Linked DNA regions of Homo sapiens: all the other regions are linked to region 3. Evidence: fine-mapped expression QTL. A gene starts in region 3. Each other region holds a variant in brackets. All regions are shown on one strand. Distances are between the middles of the regions. Region 1 overlaps GLIS3 (GLIS family zinc finger 3). Region 2 overlaps GLIS3 (GLIS family zinc finger 3). Region 3 holds the start of GLIS3 (GLIS family zinc finger 3).

What was found. PIP is the estimated chance that this variant, and not a neighbour inherited with it, causes the effect. A credible set is the group of variants that fine-mapping cannot tell apart.
Region 1: its variant is the best candidate, but not a certain one, in a credible set for the expression of GLIS3 in thyroid (GTEx, PIP 0.52).
Region 2: its variant is the best candidate, but not a certain one, in a credible set for the expression of GLIS3 in adrenal gland (GTEx, PIP 0.73).

Annotation. Positions count from the first base shown.
Region 1 is chr9:3,842,152-3,850,336 of GRCh38, forward strand. All of the region lies in intron 9 of GLIS3 (GLIS family zinc finger 3), which reads right to left. Among named protein-coding and RNA genes, the nearest start is that of GLIS3-AS1, 52 kb to the right of the region's middle. The variant C/T (reference allele first, on the strand shown) is at 4,895.
Region 2 is chr9:4,086,205-4,094,389 of GRCh38, forward strand. The region is part of intron 4 of GLIS3 (GLIS family zinc finger 3); the gene reads right to left. Among named protein-coding and RNA genes, the nearest start is that of GLIS3-AS1, 190 kb to the left of the region's middle. The variant C/T (reference allele first, on the strand shown) is at 4,592.
Region 3 is chr9:4,295,115-4,303,299 of GRCh38, forward strand. It overlaps GLIS3 (GLIS family zinc finger 3), which reads right to left and starts at 4,954. Exons shown (of 11, transcript NM_001042413.2): 1 at 4,307-4,954. It overlaps GLIS3-AS2 (GLIS3 antisense RNA 2), which reads left to right and starts at 4,187. Exons shown (of 4, transcript NR_186824.1): 1 at 4,187-4,309. RefSeq lists an enhancer at 1,955-2,249.

The sequences.
Region 1 (8,185 bases), 450 kb before region 3:
TGAGCCAGCCTGGTTCTATAGCTTTTTAAAAGACTTCCCCAGCTGGGTGCGGTGGCTCACATCTGTAATCCCAGCATGTTGGGAGGCCGAGATGGGTGGATCACGAGGTCATGAGTTTGAGACCAGCCTGGCCAAGATGGTGAAACCCTGTCTCTACTAAAACTACAAAAATTAGTCTGGTATGGTGGTGGGTGCCTGTAATCCCAGCTACTCGGCAGGCTGACGCAGAAGAATTGCTTGAACCTGGGAGGTGGAGGTTGCAGTGAGCCTAGATCACACCACTGCAGTCTAGCCTGGGGGTCAAAGCAAGACTCTGTCTCAAAAAGACCTCCCCAAGAGATAAAGGGAGGAGGAAGCTAGAGAGTCTTAACCTCTTGAGTCACAGGCAAATTGCTTCCTTTGGGTTATCTCCGACTGGGGAGCCACGGTGAGAGGGCATTGAGCCCTACACTTGGTGTCTAGGCCAATGATTCTTACCAGGGTTGGGGGGCATCAGCTCCACCTTGGCATGTGTGTTGAACATGCACATTCCTGAGCTCTACGGCCGACTCTGGAAGAAGTGCCTGGAATTCTGTATATTTAATAAGGTATTTCTTAAAAGTTTGAGAGGCTCTAAGAGAACATCTTTAGATGATTTACAAACATCTGAAAGTTTTCCAAGTGAAATACCAATTTAAAACAACAACAGAACGGCTCTAATTTCATTTGAAATGGAGAGAGGGAGTTCTTCCCATGGGCATCTCTTCCCCTTGGGCAGGCTCCCAGCCCTTTCTGCTGGTAGATGGGGCTCTTGGGGATAAGGTGGTGATGATTGTTCCAAAAGGGCCTTGAATTACACTCTCAGTAGATATGGATCCAGATGACTTGCCTGGCTCTCTCTCCCAATGCCTGTCTCTCACATGTCAGTTCTTGGTCAAGGTGAAATCATGGGACCTAATTTGAGTGACTCAGAAGTCTTGTTCTCACTGTTGGTCCCATACTGATCTTGTGGCTTAGACTTCTGTTGTCCAGCTGTAACCAAACTCCCACATTACATCCGCTTTACTAACTAGGTGATTTTTTGCTTCTTCGAATCCGAGTCTGTTATTACACAAATTTCCAGCACTCTAATCTAAAAGTGGGCCCCTACCTCATCCTTGCCAGTGATCCAATGACTCAATTATTTTTCCCTCCGAACCTCTGCTTCATAGCTGAGTCTCTATTATATATGGTTAGGCTTCCCCAAAACCTACTCTCTGGAACATTATGTTAAGATTACATTTGGGCTTGAAGTAAGAGTATGGAAACCTATATAAGTGGCTTTGAGATAGGAAAGTGGATGTTGTATTTGGGAAACCTGACATACATCACTGGATCCCGGGATCTCTGTTATCTCCATCTGGCTACCAGGAAGCCTGCCTTTGTATCTTGTCAGGCATTCATCCAACAAGTATTTATTGGGCAATTTCTGTATACCCATAGTTACTAGGCACTGATAAAAATTATGTATGTAAGAGTGATTTATAAAACATATATTGATATATGAATGTAGGTACTGCCACTGACCTCATGGGTATTGACAAAAATACCACATCAGCCCAGATCCACAGATGCAAAGAACCTTGGGTAATTATTTGGCCAATTCAGATTCCCTGAATGATTTTGTCACAATGGCAAGGAAATTTAAGAACTTATTTTGGGATGTGTGAGATGAGGTTGGGTTTGGTGATGAACGTAAGAAGGGAGGGTTCAGTAGTCATACTTAAGTGAACTAGAAAAAATACCGAAATGTTTTTATTTCAATAGACTTACATCTTGTAAGGCCTAGTTCTCAAAGACCTCACGAAAGAATGACATAAAGAGTTTAGTCTGAACAATCTGGTTAGAGAGGGGAAATTCCTGTAATCAGAAAGAGCACTCACAATTCTACGTAAACCAACGAGAAATTTTAAGGGAATTGGGATTGTTTTGTAACATGTTGCTGAGCTCAGAGGCTGTGAATGGGGACAGATCAAGCCAGTTCTAGCATTCTATTGTTTTTGTTGTTCTGTTTTATGAAGAGAGTGGCCTCGCTACCAGCAACCCAGATGTTCACTGATGTATTTTAAGGAAGCTCCATCTATAGCTGTTACATTTTTTTCTTCTTCTAAACCATCAATTGTTTACCATATTTATAAGGGTAATTCCAGTTTAAAATATAAGAAATATAAGACATAGATTGTCATTAACATGTTTAGCCCTGAAGAGTCCAACAGAGGAACGCCTAGAATAGTGTTATCAGAAAAACAATTAATTCATTTTAAGAGTTCCCTTCATTAGAGGCCAACTTCATGAGTTTCAGGTATAAGAACATTTGCTTCTAGAAAGATGTCATTACTTCCCCCAAAGAAAGAAAAAGTGCTAAGTCTATAATAATATTAATTAAACACTTTCTATAGGCATTTTTAAGTTGACTGACGAAGTCATGATGGTCAATGATATAAGGGATTTTTCTGGATATTTCTTTCTCATCAATAAATTTCTGAGTTCCAATCAGGAAAACAAACTGTCTTGCTGCAAATGACACAGCTTGACTGACAGGGTGAAAGATACTTAAATAATGTAAAAACCCAGGTCCTAGCTCTTGTTATTTAATCCCTGTTACTATTAATACTGTCTTTAAGTGTTCAATGAAAATATAAAAAGATGCTCAATTACATTACTAGCTAAAGGAAAAATTAAAGCAAGTCACCAATCTTTGCTTTACAAATCGGCAAAATACTAACATTCAGTGTGAGGAAATGGGCCCTGTGATGTGCTGCTGATGAGAGTCTAAATTAGTATAGCCTTCCTAAAAGAGTATGTGTCAATACCTATCCAACTTTAAAATGTGCAACTCAGTAATCCAGCATTTTCTCTTTTAGAAATATTTCCTAAGAAACTGTGCAAAGATATATATATATGTGTGTGTGTGTGTACAGGAGTGTTTATATAAACATGCATATATATATGAAGAGATTTAACAGAATTGCTAGAAAAAGTAAAAAATGAAAAAAATGTTCATCAATAAGGGAATGATTTAAAAAATGATGACCTATTCTTATGAGAGCTGTACAATTAAGAAGACTCTATATGCAATGACCTGGAAAGCAAAAGCATATATTTGACTAAGTTTAAAAAAATCAAGTCATAAAACAAAATATAGAATGTGAGGTGCAGAACGTGAGGCCATTTTTATAACAGGGCATATGGGCATATACATAGACACAGTTATGTCTCCTTCTATGAGCATTTAAAAAGGTCTAAAAGAATACTTGCCAATCTTTTAATAGTCATTACCTTTGAGCAGTGGAATTGGGGCAAACATAAGGCTGGGAGGGGACTTAAACTATAAGTTTCAGTACTGTAAGGACTTTAAAAAACTGAACAAGGAAAATTTTTCTTTTATAATATAAAAAGTCAGTAAGAATTTGTAAATTGTATGTAAGGACTGTGCTAAAAGCCCAGGAACCCAGGTTTGTTGATTTATAATAGTAATTAGGCTTCCAAAGTTTCCCCCAGCATACCCGTACTTGAGCAAGCACAGTGCATAATGGCATGTACACATACACACGTGCATGCCCACGCACGCACACACACACCCACACACACACACAGTGGGGTAATCCCATTGGGAGCCGTTAGATAGAGAGCTCTCCCCTCCCCATGGGGACAGCCCCCAATCAAAGGCTTAATAGCAGCATTGCAGAATGGCTAAAAGCACAACTCTGGAGTCAGATGGTCCTGGGTGCAATTTCCAGCTCCACTGTTTCAAGATTTAAAACTTCTGGGCACCACAGTGATTTAGATTCCCCACCTGTAAAATGGGAGTAAACAATGCCTTCTTTATAGTGTTGTTATGGAGGATTAGTGAGCAAGGGCATGACAGGCATTCACTACACTGCCTGACACAGAAAAAAGTGATTTTTCAGCTATCAGTGTCCAAAGACATGCAGTCAAGCAGTTGGTGGGAAATGACTTCATCTTGCAAATCACAGCACCTCTACTGACAGCAGAATGTTAACCCTATAAGGAACCGCATATTTATGGTTCCGTACTTAACTTTCAAGCAAAAGCAATTCCCAAGTAACTAAAAATTTCCATAATACTGTATCAGTAGGCACCACCACAAAGTATGATTGTGGGCTTTGGGGTCAGACTGGGTTTATAAAACCACCTCTGATACTCACTAGGTATATGAGTTAGGGCATGGTACTTAAGCTCTTCCATTGTCTCACCTGGGAGGTTGCTCTGGACTTGCTCAGAGCACCAGGTATCTGATACACAGTAGAAAAATAACAATAACAGCTGCAATGACGTGAGCATCTACTGTAGTCCAGGCATTCTCTCATTCTTGTGCCAAGTCTGAAACAGGGGTGTCAGTATCATCTATTAAACTTGAGAACCTCAGAATCAGGGCATTGCATGACCTGCTCATAGGATTCCAGTTAGTAACTGCCATCTTCTTGCCTCCAAACTGAAAATGTTTTCTTAAGCAAAGGACTGGTATCTATGGGCACTGTGAATTCCTCACAATCCCTCTTCCACAGGGCTGCCATGGCCCAGAACTTTACTACCACACACTCAGTACCAGCTGTGTCTCAGTATCCTCTTTTATTATGCAGATACTGACAAGAAGCAGTAATATATTAAGTTTACCTCAATGTGTAAGTGAATTGTTAGTTCATCCTATTTCCTCTGGGAAGAGGTCTCAGGCAGATGGTAAGCACTGGGTATTTAAAGATGGGGGCAGGGCCTGGCGAGGTGGCTCATGGCTGTAATCCCAGCACTTTGGGAGGCTAAGGCAGGGGGGTCACCTGAAGTCAGGAGTTCAAGACCAGTCTGGCCAACATGGCAAAACGGTGTCTCTACTAAAAATATAAAAATTAGCCAGGTG[C/T]AGTGGCAAGCGCCTGTAATCTCAGGTACTCGGGAGGCTGAAGCAGGAGAATCACTTGAGCCCGGGAGGCAGAGGTTGCAGTGAGCCGAGATCGCGCCTCTGTACTCCAGCCTGGGCGACAGAATGAGACTCTGTTTCAGAAAAAATAAAATTAAATAAATACATAAATAAAAAAAAATAAAATAAAGAGGGGGCAGAGAAACAGGCAGGAAGTGCCCAGAGAAAAGAGGGGCCCAGATAAACTTGTCTGTAAGTCACAATTTTGCCAAGGACTGGCTCTGCCAATCAGTCTAAGAAGCCATAAGCAAAAATCCCTTTATTCTTGTCTTTTCTTTCTGTTCATTCGTATTTATTTAATGAGCAGTTATTAAGCACTTACAGTGTGCAGAATATTGTGGGACAATGTAGTCCCTGTCCTGAGACTTACAATTTAGCAATAGTTGATTCAATCATTTAATACTCATATTCATCAAACATAGCACATTAATATGGTGAGTTTAATCTGTGTGGGTGCACATGCACTCATGCTTGTGTGTGCAGATGCTTAGTTATATATGTAGATTATTCACAGTTCAGTCATTTCCATAATCAATCATTCCAACACCTTTTCTGGTTCACATGACCATCTCACACCCCTTCCACAAAACTCAGCATGTTGAAATGCTTACTGCACTCTGCATATACACCTAAAATTAACTTTTGTTTTTTAGAATTAGAACACAGTCTGAATTTCTCAAGTACTACTTATGTAAAACTGTTCTTGGGGTAATTTTGTAGTAATTAAGTATATGAGAGTAATTAAGGACTTCTCCAAATCTAATCATCAATCCCTGGTACTGTGTAAGCGTTAATAACATCATGGCTGATATGGAAAATTATTCCTGATTATGACTGCTGATGATAACATCAGAATAACATGAAGTTCACTCATCGGCTCATTTCTTTTGTGAATATGTCACAACTTTCTCCATGAAATCTATTACAATGTTGATTTATAATCAATTATATTTATCTTTCTGGGATTTCAAGATGTGACACAATGCTTAAGTTCTAAGCAATACAATTTCTTGACTTACTGCTTTATTATTTCATAACCTCATATATGCAGTTATGATGAAATTTTCTGTGGGAGTGTTTACTGTCTTTAAAATCAGCCTTTAAAAACAACCTCTAGGCCGGGCATGGTGGCTCATGCCTGTAATCCCAGCACTTTGGGAGGCCAAGGCAAGTGGATCACCTGGGCTCGGGAGTTCAAGAGCAGCCTGGCCAACATGGTGAAACCCCGTCTCTACTAAAAATACAAAAAATTAGCTGGGCGTGGTGGCGCATGCCTGTAATCCCAGCTACTCTGGAGGCTGAGGCAGGAGAATCGCTTGAATCCAGGAGGCGGAGGTTGCCGTGAGCCGAGATCGCCCCACTGCACTCCAGCCTGGACGACAAGAGCGAAACTCTGTCTCAAAAAATAAATAAATAAAATAAAAATAAAAATAACCTTTAAATATTTAACACTATAAATTGGCAGCAGCGAAATCAGTCATGGCTACAGCCCATAGGCATCTTGCTGGAAAGTACCATTGCACAATCACTGTGAGTAAACAGCCAACTGAGGAAGAAGTTAGCTAAACTTGTACTTGCCACCTCGCTGCCATTTAAATATCAATGCTCTGATATTTCTACAGTTTGAAAGATGCTTTGGCTCTTTGGTGGGACAAGCCATTTACAATGTGTTTTGTTCTTGGAGTCCTGTTGGTGGCTGGAAACCCTTTGTTTCTTGTTGCAGTCAATTTGAACTGGACTGACAAGCTTACAGCTCCAGACTGAGGTAAGAAAATGCCACCATTGTCTGGGAGCTGACTGGCCTGCTTTAGGAAGCCTGCAGGCAGGGCATGCTTTAAATCATGGGAAAGACAGCTCAGGAACCACAGGAGCCGTGAACAACAGAGGGAGGGCGCCCCCTTCCCACTGCTGCTGCACTGATTTCAAACAGCCCAGGCTGAGGAGGTAGCTTCATGGTGTTTTCCTAACGAAATCTAGTAAGTGGTACATGGATGACAGAAATCTCTGTGTTGGCAACTGGAAACTCCAGAGGGATGCAAAATAAGAGCACACAGTGGAAAGTACGGAAACCTAAGAGAATGGAAGAGATGGGAAAACATGGGGTAGTCTACCCCGACTTCCAAGGAAGGATATGAATGAATCTGTCTGTGATTAGTCCCATTTTACAGATTAGAAAACCATCCTAGAGTGTTTGGCAGCCCCTCCGGTGTGCCTATCCAGTAAAAACTGTGAACGGAATCTCCGTTTTGTTAAGTATGGCAATGCGCTAAAATATCCATCTTCCCTGACCCCTTTGCCTTGTGACTAAGAGTACGCTTGTCCTTTACTCTTCACCCTCGTCTCTGCCTGAAACTGGGACAAGATGTGTAGAATATCAGCATTCATGCTGTGACCAGGAGGATGGAAGCCACCTGTTAACAATGACAAAGCACAAAGTTGGGAGGAGGCATGGGCACTGCTGACTCTGTGAGGCTCCTTCTCCACCTTGCACTGTTTCCTGTTAGACGTCTTGTCATGAGAGAAGGCTAAGGGCGGTGGCTCATGCCTGTAATCCCAGCACTTTGGGAGGCTGGGGCGGGTGGATCACTTGAGGTCAGAAGTTCAAGACCAGTCTGGCCCACATGGTGAAACCCCGTCTCTACTAAAAATACAAAAAATTAGCCAGGCATGGTGGTATGTGTCTATAGTCCCAGCTACTCAGGAGGCTGAGGCAGGAGAATAGCTGGAACCCAGGAGGCAGAGGTTGCAGTGAACATAGATTGCGCCACTGCACCCCAGCCTGGGTGACAGAGTGAGACTCCATCTCAAAAAAAAAAAAGACATCTTGTCATGAGAGAAGAGTAAACTGCACACTGGGGTTGTTGGTGCGGTTGCTGTAACGTGATAAATGAACCCCGAAAAATCTTGTCCTCTGCACAAATGTGTATTAAAAATAAGGTCTTTGAGAAATCTAAAATTGGGTCAGACCACTGAAAATCTTTGATACCTTCTAATTACAGCAGTAATAAAATATCAAGAGGAAATTTAGGCAGGCAGTTCAGTGTGGCTATAGGCTCCTGGGTGGTTATTAAAAATCACACAAAATAGACTGGAAAGGCTGGCTTACAGGTACTGAAACAACAAGTGATAGCAGGGCCCAGTGCACAGGAAGGCGTGTGATCTGCCATGAGCTGAAGGCCACGCAAGGCTGGATGTGCACCTCTGGGAGGGAGCCCCCTGGGACTGTGCTCATTT
Region 2 (8,185 bases), 210 kb before region 3:
GGCATGTAATTTACTTGTCTCCACCTCAGTCTAGTGAAATCCTCATCCCCCAAGTCCCAACTGAAGAATCATGACCTCTATGAAACTTCCCCAACCCCACCCTGGGGCAATGAGTCATTCATTCCCTCCTCTGAGTTATCACAGCACTTCCCCATATCTCCATCACATCGCTGAATATGTCATATTCCAAGCCATAACTTTATGTATATCATACTGTGAGCTCTCAGAGACCAGGATCCTATTCGTGGTATTCCCACGACCTAACACAGCACCTGGCACATATGCAGAATGTTTATTACATTGGGGTGAATTCAATAAAATTGAAAAAGGATCTTCCAGAAAACAAATCTTTAACAATCAGTCAGACACAGGAAATTGTGAAAAGCATGTGTCTCCAGAGAGGAAGGATGACGGAATGTGTTAAGAGACGGACTTTCCACTGTATGTCCTTTTGGAGAGTTTTAGATTTTTTTACCATGTAAATGTACCACTTGTCAAAACAGTGCTGAGCAGGCTCTACAGCATGTGCCGGGCACTGTGCACAGGAGGGACTTTCAGCATCATGAACAACTTCACTAACTAGAGAGAGCCATGAACTTGAATAACCCCTGTGGAGATTAATCTCTTTTTCCCCTCAAGTCCCACAGAGCCTTGCTGTTCTTCAGTTGTAGCATTCTCCACAGTCTAACTGATAACGGCATGATTTAGAGACATGTCCTCCACATTGGACCTTGAACCCGTAGACGGCAGAGGCTCCCTACTCTTCACCTCTGCATCCTCTACAAAATCCTAGTTTAGTGCTATGTGTACATGTGGCAGTCAACTTGTAATTGTTTAACTGAGTTGGACTGGCCCTGAAAACATGGCAAAGTCTGAAATGAAAATAAAAGGAATAACTATATTTGTTTGCAGCCAATAAATCATGTGAAGTGGAGGCAAAGAAGACAAAACCTAAAATATTACTAATAAGTAATAATAATAAATACTAGGTGATTATGGTCAGATGAGTACAGAGGTAGAACAGCTATAAAAATGTATCAGCTGTTTTTTCATCCCTTATTTAGGCCATGGATAAACATTTATTATTCCTTCTCCACTTGCGGCAAAACATACTTTCAAGTGAGAGCCTTAAATAGATGCACATCCAAAGCTGTACAGAGCTACTACTGAGTGAAGATGAAAAAAGTTTTGAGATGAAAGAAGAAAAGGAAAATGGATTCTGAAATGATAGCCTCATAAACAAAACAGGAAAACAATCGGCAATTTCCTGATAGATCTAAGGCCTCCCTCCTCCAGTGAAAATACCCCAACTAGAGTCTTTAGTGCCAGGGAACAGTTTGAAAACCCCATGATATGGAGAAAAGCAAAAAGTACAGGATGTGGGCTCTGGCCTCATAGAGCTTAAAAATAGAGTTGTATTAACACCCACATGAAAAGTTAAAAAACAACAGATTTAAGGGGGAAAGGTGGTACATCATCATAAAATTCATATCGGTGAAAAAATATTCATTGAGTACCTAATACTGAAATTTTTAGTATTCATATTCCTACATGAACTAAGGGTAAGGTACCAATCCTGCTACACAGTCCAGGCCTGACCGCTTCCTCCATGAAGCCTTCAGTTTCTTCCCACTCACAGCCACAAGGAATTATTCTCTTTGGCCCCTCAACACAGGAATTTATCCATACCTTGGTTACCTCACTTCTATTGTCCATCTCGCATTATGGTTAGTTATGTACATGGATTGGCCCCCAATGAACTTTAGACTTCCCTAGACAGACTCCACATGTCATTCATGCACTAACAACTCCTCAATGCCTTTGCCATAGTCGAACTCAGCTCACTGGCTAGACAAGGTGTGAGGATAGCCATGGCAGATCTGGGTTTGTCTTCAACCCCAACATAACCTACAAGAATTCAACTTCTGAAAGGGAGAAAGAATAAAGAAGAAGGGAAAGAAAGGAGATGAAAAAAGAGAGATTAGTATCATGTACCTCAATCCTTCTATCGGGGCACCTGCCACACTTAATTTAATTTACCGACCTGCCTCCTTTTGGGAGAAGGCATTGGTTTTTATTTACCTTTGCAGTCCTGTGGGTCTAGCCCAATCCTTGGCATAAAACATATGCTTAGGCTAATAATTATTTGGTGAATCCAATAATTAAAGAAGAGAGAAAGGTTGGAAAAATAAATGTTCTCATTTGATTAGTGCCCACTGAAATGAGAGATGAATGACAGCCAACAGAAGTACAATCCTCCCTTATTTTCCTTATCTTAAATTGGTCCTAAGTGATTTAATCTTGTGTCTGTCCTTAAACCAACTTTGAAAGATTACAAGTCAAAATTCACAGGAAAATTATCTTCTTATTTCTTAAAACTGGCTAATCCCCATTGTAGATGGAATTCACTTCAATAAATATTTACTGAGCACCAACTATATATTGGATGTATTCCTAATGCCAGAGAGTAAAGCAATAAATGTGACCTTGTCCCTTCTCCTCAAGGAACCTACAGTTTAGCGTGGCATTCCTTGTAAATTTTAGTGCCTTTTACTATGACGGAAATAAAATTATGTAGTTTCACATTTATGAAGTCCCACATTTTAAAGCCAAGGCCAAAATGGATATTTCTTTTCAAAAGTTGAGATACTTCACAGCCAAAATCCTACATGGCAGGATGCCAGTCCAAAGGGCTTCACCCCAAAAGGCCTGTCTTCATTCCTCGAGAAAAAAATGGAATAGACAGCTCCTCAGATGGAGTTACCAATGACTTAATTTTGACAGAAACATCTATATCCATGAGCTGTGTTAAAACAAAGCTGGTAGAAAGACTTTCCCCAGCAACTTGCTTTAAAACAAACTGTAAATGTTTGCTTTACTTTTATTTTTTATGAACTAGTCCCAAATATTTTGATGTGGCCTAGTTTTTTATGTTTCTTAATAATCCAAATATTCATGTCTGTCTCAACTGCAGTGTGGAAGTTTAAACTCAGGTTTTGTGGGGATGCACTGATCCATTGTATAAATGGAACAGTACTAACAAGACACGTATCACCTCTGAAAATTGCTGTTTAATGTTGGTATATCTCAAAACTGAAAAATGAAGATGTCTAAACAGTCTCATCTTGAAGAGTGGATAACATTTTTTTTTCCTTTACAAACGTTTTAAGAGAAAATGTATATGTGTGTGTATGTTAATAAAAAACTGTGTATTTACATACACGACCTTACAAATTCAATCAACATAAATATGAAAAAAGGAAAATATATTATTATTATAAAATTGCTGAGGAATTATTAATGAAGAACATTGCCAAAATGTTAAAAACATAAAAAATTGGCCATGTGTAGTGGCTCACACCTGTAATCCCAGCGCTTTGGGAGACCCAAGCAGGAGGATCTCTTGAGGCCAGGAGTTTGAAACCAGCCTGGGCAAACCCCATCTCTACAATTTTTGTTTTTTAATTAGCCAGGCATGGTGGTGTATACATGTAATCTCAGCTACTTGGGAGGCTGAGGTGGGAGGATCGCTTGAGTCCAGGAGTTTGAGGCTATGGTGAGCTACGATCATGCCACTGCATTCTAGCCTGGGCAACAAACAAGACCCTGACAAAAACAACAACAAAAACCCATAAAAAATTGAATTCTCAGGTGTCTCCACTAATTAGACAGTGACAAAGGGAAAAATCCACATTTCCGGGTGATCATAAAGAGGAGTATTTATTTTTGTTCAGACAAAGTGGTGCCTCCCACTGTGTGCCATGCCCACGGCAGAGGGGTGCAATGTCCAGAACTCTGCTCCTCGCTTGCTCCCTTCTGCCCTGTGTCAGTGGGTTGTCCTGCCTGGGCTCACAGGGACTGCAGGGGGTATGATTCCTATTCCCATACCAGCTTTGTCAAAGCACTTGTCCCAGAAGTGGATCCCATCCCTAAAACCCATTTTAGGCAGAGTTGTGACACAGGTGACTGGCATTGCCCCTTCCCTTCTACACAGGCCCACTGTCCTCATTATCTTTTGGGAAACACTAGATTTCTCCTTAGTGCTGCCTTCCTGCCTACAGCCCAACAGATTCAAACTGCGGTCCTGGCTCAATATATATTTGATTTGAGTTTAAGAAAAGCCCTTGAATTCATTCATCTCGAGGATCTAAAACTGATTCACGCTCAATAAAAACAAAATAAGACTTGGTTACAGTACCCAGGATGTGACAAAGAATCTGTAGTTTAGCCTTCTTTGGGACTTAAAGTTTAAAAAAAAAAAAAAATTAATGAGGCTCTCCAGGCAGAATCAAGTGAGACAAAGCTAAGGGCGGAAAGAAAAGGGAAAGCTTCCAAGTCCACTGAACACATAGCAGTTGGACCACCTGGTCCAAGACACAGAATCCCAACTGGAAACGCTCAGGGTGGCATTCAGGGCAAGGACACTGGAATCAGACAGGTTTAGGCTGAAATTATGGCTCCACCACTTGGTGGCCACGGCATCCAGTGTTCCTTAGTTTCCGCTAGTAGTAGCTCCCTCATAAGGCCCAGGGAAGAAGAGATAAGCTTAAGCACGTGAAGTGGTAAACATAGCACAAAACACACCCTCTGT[C/T]AACTGCTACTGCTGAGGTTGTGACTATTACTATTGCTGGTATGCTGGAGTCACTAGACTGTACATTCTGCAAGAGAAGTTTCATGCATAGCACAGTCGTTACAACTGCAGGTTCTAGAATCTGACTGCAAACCCTGGCTCAGCCATTTTCTAACTTAGGTAAGTTCCTTGAGCAATGTATTTAACCTCTTTGTGCCTTAGTGTCCATATATAAAAAGGGGGATGATGATATCCATTAAGTTGTTGCAAGTAAAGTTAGTATGTATAAAATGTTTGAGGCTGGGCATGGTGGCTCATGCCTGTAATCCCAACATTTTGGGAGTCTTGGGTGGGAAGATGGCTTGAGTCCAGGAGGTGGAGACCAGCCTGGTAAACATAGTGAGACCCCATCTCTACAAAAATAATTTTTAAAATGTTAAAAATTAGCCAGACGTGGTGGTGTACATCTGTAGTCCCAGCTACTTGGGGGTCTGAGGTGGGAGGATCTCTTGAGCCTGGGAGTTCGAGGCTGAAGTGGGTCATGATCAGATCATCACACTCCAGCCTGGGCAACAGAGTGAAACCCCGTCTCAAAAAAAATTAAGTTAAAAAAATAATTAAACGTTTGTAAGATTGGTACACGGTAAGCATTTTCCATTTATCCTTAGTGGAAATAAAAATAAAAACAATAATAATAAACACAGATCACTTACCATAAGTCAGGCACTTCATTAGACTACACGCACACGTGCACACAAACACACACACACACAACCACATAAGTATGAATGTGCAGTCATGTGTCGCTTAATGACAAGAATATGTTCTGAGAAATGTGTTAGGTGATTTTGTTGTATAAACAGCAGAGTGTACGTATGGCGAGCATCCCCCTTCGCTCGACTCTCACTTCTCCTTCCTGCCACCATGTGAAGGAGGATGTGTTTGCTTTCCCTTCTGCCATGATTGTCAGTTTCCTGAGGCTTCCCCAGCCCTGCGGAACCCCTCTTCTTTATAAATTACCCAGTCTCGGGCAGTTCTTTATAGCAGCGTGAGAAACAGAATAATACAGTAAGTATCTGTGTATCTAAACATATCCAAACATACTATGGTATGGTATCCAAACACAGAAAAGGTACAGTAAAAATACCATATAAAAGATAAAAAAAAATGATACACTTGTATAGAGCACTTACTAGGAATGGAGTCTGTGGGACTGGAAGTTGTTCTGGGTGAGTGAGTGCTGAGAAACGTGAGACCCTAGGACATTCCTGTACACAACTGTAGACTTTACAAATACTGTACACTTAGGCTACACTAAATCTATTAAAAATTTTTCTTTCTTTAATAATAAATTTATCTTACTGTAACTGTTTTACAATTTTTTTTTTTTTTTTTGAGACAGAGTCTCGCTCTGTTGCTCAGACTGGAGTGGAGTGGCGCAGTCTCGGCTCACTGCAAGCCTCGCCTCCTGGGTTCACACCATTCTCCTGTCTCAGCCTCCCGAGTAGCTGGGACTACAGGCGCCCACCACCATGCCTGGCTCATTTTTTTGTATTTTTAGTAGAGACAGGGTTTCACCATGTTAACCAGGATGGTCTCGATCTCCTGAGCTCGTGATCCGCCTGCCTCAGCCTCCCAATAAACTTTATTTTTTGTTTGATTCTTCTGTAAAAGCACTCAGTTTACAACACAAACACACTGTACAGCTGCACCACAATATTTCCTTTCTTTATTTCCTTATTGCATAAGCTTTTAAAAATTTTTTTAAACTTTTTAAATTTTTTGTTGAAAAGTAAGACATGAATACACACATTATCCTAGGCCTACACAGGGTCATGATCATCAATATCACTGTCTTCCACCTCCACATCTCATCCCACTGGAGGGTCTTCAGGGGCAGTAACAAGCCTGGAGCTGTCATCTCCCATAATAACAATGCTTTCTTTTGAAATACCTCTTGACGGAGCAACCTGAGGCTGTTTTATTAACTTTCTTTTATAAACAGAAGGAAAGCACTCTAAAATAATAATAAAACGTATAGTATAGTAAATACATAAAACAGCAACACAGATTTTTATTATCAAGTATTATGTGCTGTACATAACTATATGTGCTTTATTTTTATACAACTGGCAGTGACATAGGTTTGTTCACACCAGAATCACCCCCATGCACGTGAATAATGAATTGCTCCATGATGTGACATTAGCAATGACGTCAGTAGGTGATAGGAATTTTTCAGCTCCTTTATAATCTTATGGGGCCACTGTTGTATGTGTACATAGCCACTCTTTGACCAACATGTTGTTATGTGGCACATGCCTGCATGTATATTTAATTATCCTCATTTACAGATGAGAAAAATGAGGTACTAAGTGGAAAAGTAACATGCTGGCCTCACAGCCTGTAAGTGGCAGAGTCATGATTTAAATCCAGGCAGTCTGGCTCCAGAGTCCACGCTCTTAATCACTATGCTATGCTGCCTGGAAAAAAAAAAAAAAGTTAATATAATGAATGAATGTTCCTGCTGGAAAAATACTGAAAAGAGCCAGTCACTTTGCCCCCAGTGTTTGCACTGAGTAAGGCCCCCTCTTGCAAAGCGTGCACAAGGGAAGAACCAAAGCATGTGGAAGACAGAGGAGAGCAGACTCAGAGACTCGGTACTTCCTCCCTCGGGTTGGCAGGGGCTATTCAGCCAAAGCCTGAACAGAAGGGTGGCCTGAAGGCTTAAAAATAACTCAGGGTGCTGGCCCTAAATCCAAAGTCACTTGGTTTTCTAGCACATTTTAAACTGGCAAGGAGCAAATGCTTATTATGGGCTTGGCCTTCTAGTGGTATGATAAGGGGCTATAAATACTCAGAAGACTGGATACTGGTCTTGAGGAAGCTTATCACAGGACAAGGCACCTTCAGCTTCCTTGCTAACCCACTGGCTGAGTTTGATTTGTGTATCTGCAACTCTTCTAGATTGCAGTTATGTGTGCTGGATTTCATGCTGCTAAATATCTATATATATATTTTTAAATTTTAGGCCATTTAAGGCCAAACATGTATTCTTTGGCTATGACAAGACAAGTTGACCAGAAGGCCTTATCAATACTTCAGTAACCCTGAGGTCTCACCTTATAATACCTCATCTCAGAAACTGTGGAATTGTAGGTCAACTGTGTATTGAATCGATAATTTGCTGCTGTCTAGTTCTTAAGAGTGATTCATTGCTTTTTTTCATCATCCTCGTTGAATTCAGTTTCCTGCAAATATCTGAACTCTGGGTTCTTCCAGATCATCTGTTCCGTGGATGCTTCCCAATCAATGGCTTTAAGCACGTGAAAATCTCAACCAAAAATACCTGATGATAGACAGAAAGAGATGGGAGTGGAACATGGAAGAGAAGAGGAAAGCAGGAACGAGAGGAACTGAGGAAAACAAGCTGGGTCATCAAATTATTAAGAAGACAAACATTTCTTACCTACCAGATTAGTAAATATCAGAATCTTGCTAATATACTGTGTTGGTGAGATGTAGGAGAAATTGACATGCTCATATGTGGCTAGTGAGAGTGCAAATCAGTACAATCTCCTATGTTAGTGAAATCTGCCAACATTTCCTCTGTTT
Region 3 (8,185 bases):
GGTGAACAATGAAAAATCCCAGCTAAAAGTTGCAAATGAACAGTTCAATACTGAAACCAGGCACTTACTTTTTTTTTTATTATGGGGGTTGCTGGCCCTCACGAAAGGACGGTGAAATACACTCTGGGTTGCCTTAGTGGAAGGAACGCCTCTGAATTTTCCTGCTTCCTACACTGGTGTCACATTAGACATTTCACTTGTGTCTGTTTGGTCTCCCTAACCAGACTGTCATCAGAATATAAATATGGCTTCAGTTTGGTTAGTGTTTTTCCTTAATTCTATCATATTAAGTAATGCCTCACTAATTTCTGCAAGCCAGACTGTTTCCATCATCTTTAAAGGGGGAGTCCAAATTATTTGACCTAATAAAAGGTTGTTGTGTTGAGCGAAAGAAGCCAGACCCAAGAGTGCATATTGAATTATTCCATTTACACAAGATTTTTTTTAAAAAAACCAGACAAAACTAATATATCTGTTAGAAACCAGGGCAACGGTTACCTTAGGCAGAGGTGGTAACTAGAATGGAGTGTGAGAGATGTTTCTGGTGTGTTGATAATGCTCTGTTTCTTGATCTGGAGACTAGTTATGTGGGTGTGTTCCACTTGCAAAAAAATGCATCGAGCTCAAGATAAGTGTGCTTTTCCGTAAGGATATTTCATCTCAATAGAAAATTTGGCTTTTGTGTCAACTCTGCCTAAAGTAAGTGGGAAACTACAAAAACTGGGGACTTGGACATCTTTTAATCAAACTATGTATCAATGTCATTTCAAAGGTTTTGTTATGTGTCATCTTCCTTGAATGAGAATGGCAACAAGTTTTTTTTTTATCACACAGATTTCCTATGTGCCTTTTTTCCCCAGTCCTGATAGTCTATGAACCAACCAAACTTAGGGAAAAGTAAAACAGTTAAGTCCTGTATTTCCACCTTATTTACAATATAATGCCCTCTACAGAAAATAATCACAGAAACACAGAAAATGACTTCTCCAGAGATGAGAAATGTGCATGTGACGCCACTCTGAGTTATCTCCTTCAAGAAGTATGTATTCTATAATCTGGGAGAAGAGTAAATTAACACTCCAACTCCAAAGATCAATAATTATAATATGAGAGAGACAACAGTGGAAAGAATGAATGTCCTCAGGCTTAATTTACTAGCAGGAAAGAACAGTCAGAGGAAAAAAAAAAAAAAAAAAGACCGAGAACACTGAGCTCTCTTCTGGAATGGCAGAAGGACCACTTTCTCCTGCATAAATGAAGGCAGGGCTAATACAAAACGTTTTCTGGGTATTATTTAACCTCTCCTACCCAGGCTATTTTAGCTCAGTAGGAAATTCACCCACTAGGTGGACCTTGGAGTTCATCCACCACCCCAATAAAGATTGCCTTTCTTATTTGAAGTGATGATCACTTCTTCCAAGCAAACCAACAAACCCTAGGTATTCAACCTCTGATAACCTGCCTACTAAGGAACTTCAGTGGAATCAGGGGATCAACGATGCTGTCCCCAAACTGGCCTAAGGTGAACCAAGGGGAGAAGTTAACAGCAGCACTTAAATTGATCTACTCATACTCAAGGATTACTGAGTCTTCTGGGCAAGAAAAGAAAGCAATTACAAACTACCAATAAGGACAGGTGTTTTGAAAATAGCGAAAAAAAAATGTCCCCTACACTTCCTTTCAAAGGTAGCCTCAGAGCTAGTCTGGCTGCGCAGATGACCAGTGAAAATAAATGAAAACTGCAGTACGGTTATAGATGATCCTTACACCTCAGCTTGTTCTCAATTGCAAAAAAAAAAAAAAAAAAAAAAAATGCATATAATCTAACACTCTCCTGTCTAAATTGCTTCAAACTTTCTCAGAACGACCTTCATCGTGGCGGATTCTTTTTCTGCAAACCTTTACAGGTTGCACCTGCTTCACACAGAACCAGCGGAAACAAACTAGGAGGAGATAAAAGAGAAGAAGTAGGAAGGTTTAAACCAACACAAGTCGATTTTGTACCCAAAAAAAAAAAAAAGTTTAGTCTAAAAAGGGAGGTCCAGTGAGGAACAAGACAGAGGGTGAAACAGAAGTCTGGCTTACTCCCAAGGCAGAAATCATGACTCATCAAAGCTTTCAGAGGGGACAGAACCAGACTTTGCATTTGTCTTGAGGTCATCTTCGAGCCAAGAAATGCTCTCTTAACCGGGACCTGAGAACTTTAAGGGTCTGCGACAACTGGCTGTGAGGCCTTGGGCAAAACCTCTAACGTCTCTGGGGCTCGGTTTCCTCATCAGGTGAAGCCAGGGTCCACTCTAGCTTTAATAGTCTCTCCTCGAGATTCCCGGCCCCATACTAAAGGGACCTGGTCCACTGGGGGGAGCTGCAGAACTTCCCTCTTCTCACAAACTCCAGGGCCCTGGGGCCCCAACTCTCGGGAGATGCTGAAGTCTTGGAGGAAGTTGGTTCTGCCGGCTCGGGGAGAGGGTGCAAGAGCAACCCTCTTTGTGAAACGGGGCCGCGACTCCACGAGTCCTGTCTCTACGGACCCTACTCCCTGTGATTCCGGAAGCACCTCCCTACCCCTTCCCCAGGTTTACATGCTCCAGAGATGAGGGCCAAGCGGATACCGGGGCAAACTAGCGTGGGGCTCAAGGAGGCACACAGAGCAGTGGTCTCAGTCCTCGAGACCACTCCTGCCAAGAGGAGGGCTGGAGAAGTCGGGAGAGGTGCCGGGAGCGGGGGAGAGGCGCGTAGGACAAGGCAGGAGGAGGGCGGCCCTTATCGGTTCCCTATAGGACTGGCTTCGCTGCCGGGGTCGGAGATTCCTCGGCGCGGAGCTAGGGGCGGGTCCGGAGGCGGAGGCGACAGCGCCCGGCGGGGTACGCGCGGCTGCGACCCCGTCACTCCCCCGCCGCCTCCGCCCCTAACCCTCGGCCCCGTGCGCGAGCGAGCGAGGGAGCGAACGCAGCGCAACAAAACAAACTAGTGCCGGCTTCCTGTTGTGCAACTCGCTCCTGAGTGAGTCGGGGGCCGAAAGGGTGCTGCGGCTGGGAAGCCCGGGCGCCGGGGACCTGCGCGCGCTGCCCGGCCTGGCCGGAGCCTGTAGCCCGGGGGCGCCACGGCCGGGCTCGCAGTCCCCCCACGCCGGCCCCCCGGTCCCCGCCGAGCCAGTGTCCTCACCCTGTGGTTTCCTTTCGCTTCTCGCCTCCCAAACACCTCCAGCAAGTCGGAGGGCGCGAACGCGGAGCCAGAAACCCTTCCCCAAAGTTTCTCCCGCCAGGTACCTAATTGAATCATCCATAGGATGACAAATCAGCCAGGGCCAAGATTTCCAGACACTTGAGTGACTTCCCGGTCCCCGAGGTGACTTGTCAGCTCCAGTGAGTAACTTGGAACTGTCGCTCGGGGCAAGGTGTGTGTCTAGGAGAGAGCCGGCGGCTCACTCACGCTTTCCAGAGAGCGACCCGGGCCGACTTCAAAATACACACAGGGTCATTTATAGGGACTGGAGCCGCGCGCAGGACAACGTCTCCGAGACTGAGACATTTTCCAAACAGTGCTGACATTTTGTCGGGCCCCATAAAAAATGTAAACGCGAGGTGACGAACCCGGCGGGGAGGGTTCGTGTCTGGCTGTGTCTGCGTCCTGGCGGCGTGGGAGGTTATAGTTCCAGACCTGGCGGCTGCGGATCGCCGGGCCGGTACCCGCGAGGAGTGTAGGTACCCTCAGCCCGACCACCTCCCGCAATCATGGGGACACCGGCTTGGATGAGACACAGGCGTGGAAAACAGCCTTCGTGAAACTCCACAAACACGTGGAACTTGAAAAGACAACTACAGCCCCGCGTGTGCGCGAGAGACCTCACGTCACCCCATCAGTTCCCACTTCGCCAAAGTTTCCCTTCAGTGGGGACTCCAGAGTGGTGCGCCCCATGCCCGTGCGTCCTGTAACGTGCCCTGATTGTGTACCCCTCTGCCCGCTCTACTTGAAATGAAAACACAAAAACTGTTCCGAATTAGCGCAACTTTAAAGCCCCGTTATCTGTCTTCTACACTGGGCGCTCTTAGGCCACTGACAGAAACATGGTTTGAACCCTAATTGTTGCTATCAGTCTCAGTCAGCGCAGGTCTCTCAGTGACCTGTGACGCCGGGAGTTGAGGTGCGCGTATCCTTAAACCCGCGCGAACGCCACCGGCTCAGCGTAGAAAACTATTTGTAATCCCTAGTTTGCGTCTCTGAGCTTTAACTCCCCCACACTCTCAAGCGCCCGGTTTCTCCTCGTCTCTCGCCTGCGAGCAAAGTTCCTATGGCATCCACTTACCAGGTAACCGGGATTTCCACAACAAAGCCCGGCGTGCGGGTCCCTTCCCCCGGCCGGCCAGCGCGAGTGACAGCGGGCGGCCGGCGCTGGCGAGGAGTAACTTGGGGCTCCAGCCCTTCAGAGCGCTCCGCGGGCTGTGCCTCCTTCGGAAATGAAAACCCCCATCCAAACGGGGGGACGGAGCGCGGAAACCCGGCCCAAGTGCCGTGTGTGCGCGCGCGTCTGCGAGGGCAGCGGCGGCAGGGGGAGGAGGAGGCAGAGGCGGGGTGGCTGGACCCTCGGCATCAGCTCATTCTCCCCTGCTACACACATACACACACAAATAATGTTTCTAAAAAGTTCAGTTGCGACTTTGTGCCTCGCCTGTCCTGTTCATCCTCGTCCTGGGCCGGGGAATGCTTCTGGGGGCCGACCCCGGGATGCTGGCTAATTGCTGCCGGCGGGTTCCGTCGCCGGTGTGACCCTGGACGGCGCGGACGGCGTACAGGGGGTCCCGGGAGGGGCAGTGGCCGCGGCACTCGCCGCCGGTGCCCGTGCGCGCCGCGCTCTGGGCTGCCCGGGCGGCGCAGTGTGGACGCGGCTGCAGGGAGAGGGGAAGGGGGAAGAGGGAGGGAGGAAGGCAGCCGGGCGAGGAGTGTGGATGTGTGTGCGGCCGCGAGGGCCGGCCTGTAGCCAGCTGCTTCCTGAGTGTGAGCGCCGGAGGGGGAGGGGGAAGAGTGGGGGCGGGCTCGCGGGTCACTAGGCTGGCCAATTCGAAGGCCGAGCTTGTGTCTCCCTCTTGACGCATTCACACACACACACACACACACACACACACACACACACACTCCCCGTGCGCCAGAAGTCGAGGAACTCCAGAACAGGGTAACAGCAGGGAGACACTTCGCCTTCTTCCTGGCCTTATTTGTTAAACTGACTTATTTTAACATGAAAAAGTGTTAGTGTTTAGACAGGATTTGATGTCAGGTCATAAAAAAATAAACAAACAACCAAAAAAATCCGGTAGTAATACGGAGAGAATAACACAGTGAAAAATGGCAAAAGGGTTGCTTTGAAATATCGGATCGGATGCACATGACAGCTTCGAAACTGGATAGGTGAAGCACTAAGGAAGGCTTTGGCATCCTTTCCAAGTATAGGCAGGGAAGAGAGGAAGGTGATGGAAGTGTTAGAAGGGTATAAAATTCTGAACACAGGCTGTTAAGAATGGAGGTATATTCCCTGCGTATGTTACGTCTATAAAGTGGCACTTTATCCTTATGAATTCAACATCCTCAGCCTCATACCCCACCTAAGCTCTGACTCGCCACCGCTTCTGCTTGTGTTGACCAGAGCCCTCAAAAGGTTGTTACAAGAAAGTCTGCTCCTAGTAGTTCATCACATGTATTGCCACAGATGCAAGGACTTCCATCTTGGGAATCTAGGTATGTAATGCACACAATATCCTCCAGGTAGGCCTTTCTGCAGTTGACAGTATTATTCACCATCATGAATGAAATGAGTGAGGATGCCACCAGACACTTAGAATTTCACAAGTCCTTATATTCTATTCTACTGTTACCACTCCAATATAAATTAGCAATCAGGTAGTAGATGCTTTGATCAAGACAGAAGTCCTCAAGGACACAAATGACTTACCCCAGAAAGCCAAAACTAAAAGACTATTGGCAGTTTTCATTTATCTAATTTCAGTGGGAATACTACTAGGCTTGGTCTGTATCCATGATATTAACATAACCAAAAGAAGCCTGGTTTCCACAGTACTTTTTCTTTTCTTTTCCTTCACCTTGGGACACAAACTCATCAGAATATTTGTCAGCAGAAGTAGGGGATGAAAAATAGTAAGAGGTCAGGATATGTCATTCTGTCAGTTTTCCAGTTTCTCTCTGTTCATCTCTTTTAAATACAAGTATTCAAGCCCAAGATGGCAATAGATGGGCTCAACCACACGTAAGAAAAGAAAATACTCATAAAATGAAGCATGCAGCAACATCACAAAAACAAAGAAACCAAGTGGTGGAAATTGCCATGACTATTCCATTGTGGCTAGTTATTGCAACATGCCTGACATTCACATAAAAACTCTTCCTCATTAACTCCAGCCTTAAGGAACAGAGCAAGATGGCAACACTAACCCTTCAATGCATCATGGGAACTTCTGTTCATCAGATTCTTGTGCTGTACAACTGCTTCCCAGGAGCAAGACAAGCCTGGGTGGAGACTGCAAAAAACCTTTCCAATGTCCCTCAAATATCATTTTAAATACAATGGTTTTGATGCATAGAATGGTATCCTAGGGGCTTGCAGAAGCTTCTAAAACTTCCCAAATGATGGGAACAGCTTAGCTGGAAGAGAAAAAAATATAGTGCTACACCCAACTTTAATCAATAGCTCATGGAAAAAAACACTGGGAAAGTTAGGAGTCATCAACCTGGAGATCCCCAAAATCTCTTCATTTATAAGAGCCCAAGAGTGGGAATGTCATTTTATTTAGGTGTGATTTTCATGAACCTCTAACATTCCTAAAATATTTACCACTGAAGAGGTATAGTGCTTTGGTTGAATTTTTTTCTTTTTTTTTTTTTCTGGCCAAGAATGTAGATCTGCAATGTTCTTATATTCCATGGGTTATAGTAAAAATGCAGTTGTTCTTGTACCAGTACAACCCTGGAATGACTCAGAATGAGATCTGTACCTCTTCTGGGCTGAATTGGTCAGCAGGGGTGAGGGAGGGTGGTAATGAGAGACAGTGAGAAAGGAAATCATGTAGTTCCAAAATGATACTCTCCCTTACCCATGAGCTCTCCATCGTGCTTAGGAATCATACTCTGGCAGCCCTTCAGCCAGATAGGTGGGAACTGCAGCCCAGTCAGTATCTTCCCTCTCTAGAGACCAGTGTTGTATGTGCCTCAACCGCTGACTCAGGGCAGCTGACTCAGCAGACAGGCCCCTGCTGCCAGCTCCAGTCCAGTTCTCATTCATCAGAGAAATATTCAGTGAGTACACACTCTGTCCAAGTATTGGGACTAAAGGAATTAACACTTGTAGGCATTGTATATGGGAGGATATTACAGAAAACTTTTTGCCCAGTGTCTTAGTTGTAGCAAACCCTCAAGAAATGGGGACTCTTTGCATATATTACCTCATCTAATTCTCAAATCAAATGTATGATGTGGCTATGAATAATCTCCTACTTAGAAGCAAAGAAGTTGAAGCTCAGTAAACAGTTAAAGAGAGTCAGAGACAGAGCCAAGTATGCCAGTTTAGAAGCCCCAAGTTCAATCAACATTACTGTACTACAGAATAATTGTGCATGCTCTTTGAATGTGTATAAAACATATTGCAGGTGTATAAAGTGCAAAGCATCTTGTGGTCAGTGTTAGATGAGCACAATGAAGTTTGTAGGGAGTGTGGAGGAGGCAGGAATAATTTCCTGCAATGTGACATGGAGTAGCTTGGCTGTTTGAGCTGGACTTCAAAGAATGAGTAGAGAAGTGATAAGCAAAGGAGACCATTTCAAGTATAGGAATCAGCATCAAAAGGGGCACAGAAGGCATAAGTCCTGCATAGCAAGCAGCTCACTCAAAGCTAGAGTACAAAATAGGAACATCCACTGTCTCACAGCAATGAAACTCTCCCGAAGGAACATCCTGACAGCAAAACTTCAGAACTGCTATTTGAGTCACCCTGAGTGCTCTGACAGTAAACCACTTACAAACTTGCAAAGAACTATGATCAGATTCCTCCTCCCACAAAGTGTCCGTGAAAAGAAACAAATTTGAACCCCAAAATACAGATAAGTTGAGCTAATAGCACCAGTGATAGTATGCCTAGCTATTAAAACACAGACACACACACACACACACACACGAGCTGGCA